Linked DNA regions of Homo sapiens: region 2 is linked to region 1. The links come from fine-mapping of genetic effects on gene expression. Tissue or cell type: whole blood. Region 1 holds a variant in brackets; the other region holds the start of a gene. All regions are shown on one strand. Distances are from middle to middle.

Region 1 (2,852 bases):
ACTATTGAAGTCAAGTAATATGTCCTCCTACAAATCAAGTAATATAAGTATTATAAGTCCTCCAACTTGTTTCCTACTTTTCAAAGATATTTGAGGCATTCTAGGTTCTTTGCATTTCTATATTAATTTTAGAATCATCCTGTTAAGCTTTAAAGACAATCATGCTGACATCTTATTGGGTTTGTTTCAAAGAGATGTCTTCACAATATTGAGTCTTTCAATCAATGAACATGGTATATTTCTGCATTTATTTAGGTCTTCTTTCATTTATCTCAGCAATGTTTTTTAGTTTTCAGTGTGTAGGTATCACATGCACTTTGTCAGGTTTATCCCTAACAAAGCATATATATATATGCTTGAGATAGGGTCTCACTCTATTGCCCAGGCTGGAGTGCAGTGGTGGGATCATGGCCCACCACAGCCTTAACCACCTGGGCTCAGGTGACCCTCCCATCTCAGCCTCCCAAGTACCTGGGACTACAGGTGCACACCGCCACACTAGGCTAATTTTTATTGGATTATTTTGTAGAGATAGGGTTTCGCCATGTTGCCCAAGCTGGTCTCGAACTCCTGGGCTCAAGTGATCTGCCTGCCTTGGCCTCCCAAAATGCTGGGATTACAGACATGATAGTATTTTATATTTTTGTTGTCACTGTAAATGATATTGTTATAATTTATAATTTAAATTTCCCATTTTCATTGCTAGTATATAGAAAACACAATTTATTTTTCATTCTTTATCTTGTATCCTACAACTTTGCTAAACTCATTTATTCTAGTATTTTTCTTGTAGATTTCACAGGACTTTCTGCATAGACAGGAATGTCATTTGTGAATAAAGACAGTTTTATTCTTCCCGTACAATATGAATGCCTTTCATTTTTGCCCTATTTCACTGGCTGCATCTTCCAGTATAATTTTGAATAGAATTGGTGAGAGTGGATCCTTGCCTTGTTCCTGATCTTAGGCAGAAAACATTCAGTCTTTCATCATTAATGAGGTTAACGGTAGGTTTTTTCATAAATGCCTTTTATTAGGTTGAGGAGGTTCCCTTCTATTCCTAGTCTGTTGAGTTTTATTGATTAAGTTTTGAATGCTAAACCAATCTTGCATTCCTGGGATGAACCCCACTTGTTCATGATGTATTTTCCATTTTATATATAATTGGATTCAATTGCCTGGGGCAATTATAGGGCTCACTTAGTTTGTTTCCTGTTTCTCAGCGATGATTGTCCATTGCCCAATGTCCAATGTCTTGAAAACTGCT[G/A]TTTTACAGTTTTGTCCCTGTAAATTTGGTCCCCGTTACTCCATCTTGACTAGAAGCAGAAGTTCAAATGTTGCATTATTAACGTGAACTCTGGAGAAACTGTGATAAAAAAAACTGTCTTTTCTGAATCATAAGCCAAAATGACGTGTATGTTTTCACACCAAATAGTGATAACAGAGACTCAGAAACGCAGCAAATAGAAATGGAAATCCAAGGCTCAAGAGGCATCTGTAAGTTTGAGAAAGTTTGCTATTTCATTTAAACAGCAAATTAAATATATTTTGTAAGGTTAGCAGAAACAGCTCTTTTTAAAATGATATTCATAATTTCTATTCTAAGAAAAGAAATCACTAGCGAGTGTGTATACACACACAGAGGAATGAGGAAGCAGTGAAATTAAAATTTTTTAAAAAACCAACCTTTACATCAATTGGCGTATCTCATGCAGAGAACCTTTAAATTGAACCTAGGCACTCCCAAAAAGAAAATCAATCAAGAGTGGTATCTTCTTATAGGTTAAAAAGACATTCAATATTCATAGAATTGCTTATCTGCAGAACTTTATTTATTTATTTTTTTGAGACAGAGTCTCGCTCTGTCACCCGGGCTGTAGCGCAGTGGTGCAATCTCCGCTCACTGCAGGCTCCGCCTCCCGGGTTCACGCCACTCTCACGCCTCAGCCTCCCGAGTAGCTGGGACTGCAGTGCCGGCCACCATGCCCGGCTAATTTTTTGTTTTTGTATTTTTAGTAGAGACAGGGTTTCACCGTGTTAGCCAGGATGGTCTCGATCTCCTGACTTCGTGATCTCCCCGCCTCGGCCTCCCAAAGTGCTGGGATTACAGGCGTGAGCCACCGCGCCCGGCCAAAACTTTAAAGATAAGTATACTCGTTATTAGTTATCCCACAAGTTCAGGAATACTTTGAGAATATATTCCAATTTTTGCAATTCTTATTTCTTATTAATTTACGAGGGGAAGTTAAACCTTTTTAGCAGAAGTGGTAGTTCCAGAAACATCTGGTGTTTATAAACAGCAGCTTGTGGGTGGAGACTATGTCTCCCTAATTTGTCAGCAGTTCAATGCTGCATTGATAGACAAATTGAAGTGGCCTAAAAGCTAGAACTTTGAGAATTATGTTAGCCTAGTTGAGCTTTGGATCCATTGTTCTGGAGTATTGATTTTCTTTTCCCAGGGATCTTAATTTAGTTTAGTTTTAGTTTTCAATAAATTATTTGTTCATTCATATAATGGTGCTTTGAGAGAGGATTTGATATAACGTTTCAGGATCTATTCAAAGGCTCAGACCGAGCAGGAACAAAACACTGCTACAAGGACTTCCTCTAGACACACCTCTTTTCATCTCTGCAGCAATTCACTTTTCACACTATGGACTGGACTCCCTTTGAGTAACCAATAAATCACAAAAGGTGTGTGTAAACTGTTTTTGCTTCAGTCATACTTGACTGTTTTATTAGGCATAGATCCAAGTGTAGGCTACAATCATGATTTTTTTTTTTTTTGAGATGGAGTGTTGCTCTTGTTGCCCAAGCTGGAGTGCAATGGTGCAATCTCGGCTCACTGCAAC
Region 2 (2,675 bases), 36 kb after region 1:
CGTTCTCATTTACTTGGCCAATATCTTATTTATGGATATAATTTTTTCTAGTCATTTATTTTCTCAAGCAATGCTGCAACAAATATCTTTTCACATAAGTCTTTGTGTACAAGTGTAAACATATAGCTTGGACAAATTTATAAAAAATACAATTGTTGGGTCAAAGGGTATGAATATTTGTATTTGAGAGATACTGGGAAATTGCCCTCTAAATATGTTTACAATCTCATCAGTAGTGTTTGAGAGTGCTTGTTTCTTCACAACTTTGCCCACACCATGTATTATTGTTTTGACCTTCGGTATTTGGAGAGGGAAAACTTTTTTCTTTTTTTTTTCTTTTGAGACGGAGTCTCGCCCTGTCGCCCAGGCTGGAGTGCAGTGGCGCGATCTCGGCTCACTGCAAGCTCCACTTCCCGGGTTCACGCCATTCTCCTGCCTCAGCCTCCCGAGTAGCTGGGACCACAGGCGCCCGCCACCGCGCCCGGCTAATTTTTTGTATTTTTAGGAGAGACGAGGTTTCGCCGTGTTTGCCAGGATGGTCTCGATTTCCTGACCTCCTGATCCACCTGCCTCGGCCTCCCAAAGTGCTGGGATTACAGGCGTGAGCCACTGCGCCCGGCCGAGAAAATTTTTTTCATTTACATTTTTAAAAATTATAAGTACCATTGAGAAATAATACTTCTTAAAAATTATAGATTAGTAACGAAACAGAATTTCCTAAAGTCATATGTGACTTTGGCTTTCTTTTGGGTGAAGGATCCCAGATAATGTACTTTTCTAGAAAGGAAATTTAATTCTGTTGCTAGGGTTCTTACAAAATGTGTAACCATAAACTATTTTAATAAGAGACAGTTTCGTAGATAGGTTTCATTTTTCGAAAAAGGGGAAGAAACACCATTCTGTGGCTTGATGTGGCTTTGTCAGTTACTGCCTCCCCACCTCCCGGGACTTCCCACTGCCTCTTTAGCACAAATCGGACTTGAACAAAAACAACTCTTTTTCCATGGGACCAATTATAAAAAGAATGGCTTTGCACTGAGCAGCTCAGTCTACTGGTCTCATCAGTGAAAGGCTTGTGAAAATTTCTGGAAAGAGCATTGGCTGGCTTGTTCATCTCTCTGTTTGGTCAGTTGCTGTGTTTCTGCCGGATCAGATGAGCAGATTGGTTAGTGAAGGTAAGAAAAAGAAAGCAAAGGACCCTAGAACTCCGCTATTATTTTTTGTCATCTGTCTTCTCACGCTTTCTTAGCCCTTTATCACGAGAGCGCTGATCCATTCTTATGACATCTAAAATGCTTTTCTAGCTTACCATATCAGAGACAAGTGGGAGTTTAAACAAGCATTCAGTGGAGTTGAAAAATAAAGAGAAATTAAGCCCAATACTTCCTTTCCTTACCTCCTCGTGTCCACATTCTAAGCATTTCTAAAACACTTATATTTTTACCTACAATTTTTGACTGATCTGAGCAAATATTTATTGTGTTATTTTTGCAGTCCTCTTTCACTAATTGCCACACTGGTTTAGCTTCTGCATTTTTAAAAGAAGGCCTAAAAACCTAAGCAGGGTTTTGCAGGGACAACACAGCTCTTGAATTCAGTTACGGTGATGCAGTTTTAGAGACGAAAACAATCACAGTCCTTTCCAATTGGATTTGACTCTCAATTATTCAGTTCAGCAAGCTTGTGATAGTGTTTTTCTGTGTGGCAGGATGTATTCAAAATGAATGCGATCTATAGTGAGGATGCTTTTCGACTTTCATCTGGGTGATTTGGGGAAAGCTTCCCTTTTGGTATTAAAGATAGCGCATGTACGAGTGGAGTTTTGTTTGAATTATCTTTAGACTCGCTCAAACATTCTTTGTCTTGCGCATATGAATCTGTGCTTAAATATAGACCTGGTTTGGACAGAATATTTATATTGATATTTTATAACATTTCTTGCATAGGTCAGTGTGAGAAGAAGATTGTTTCTGAGCTTGAGAAGCTTCTGGAGGATTGAAGAGTATTTGAAGTCTGTGTCAAACATCCATATCATAAGTGGAATTTTGGAGATATTCAAAGGTAGTACACTAATTCTATTATCTCAGAGCAAAATGATGTTTGAAGTATTTATATCAAGTCACTGAGACATTTCTCATCTCATATGTAGTGATTATTTTAGATATATAAGATATTGTCCCTCTAGGCTCTTAATAAACATTATACAATGTAAATATGCCTTCATTAACTAAATATGGTTTTTTCCCCCTCCCAATTTTTATTTAGAAATGTTTCAAATCTATATAAAAATTGAAAGAATAGTACAACGAACACCCATATTTTCATCATGTGTATTAATCAGTGGTATCTTTTTGCCACATTTACTTTCTCTCTCGCTTTGTCTTTCTCTGTCTCTGCCTGTCCTTTTCTCTCTCTCTATATGTGTATATATATATTCACACACACGCATGCACATATGCACAGTTTTTTCCCTGAATGGTTTGAAAGTATGTTGCTGACTTTAGGACACATGTCACCCCTAAATTCTTGAGCATGTATCTCCTAAAAATAAAGGCAGTCTTCTATAACACATTACAACACCACGGAAACATAACATCAACACAATACTATTATCTAAGATGTGATACACATTCAAATTTTCCTAATTATCCACATGTCCTTTAGAATCTTTTTAT

Evidence for each region. PIP is the estimated chance that this variant, and not a neighbour inherited with it, causes the effect.
Region 2: TASL starts here. The variant in region 1 is fine-mapped to the expression of TASL in whole blood (TOPMed, PIP above 0.99).

Annotation. Positions count from the first base shown.
Region 1 is chrX:30,612,388-30,615,239 of GRCh38, reverse strand. No RefSeq gene overlaps it. Among named protein-coding and RNA genes, the nearest start is that of TASL, 36 kb to the right of the region's middle. The variant G/A (reference allele first, on the strand shown) is at 1,268.
Region 2 is chrX:30,576,138-30,578,812 of GRCh38, reverse strand. It overlaps TASL (TLR adaptor interacting with endolysosomal SLC15A4), which reads left to right and starts at 1,047. Exons shown (of 3, transcript NM_025159.3): 1 at 1,047-1,175; 2 at 1,947-2,061. RefSeq lists an enhancer at 816-1,025.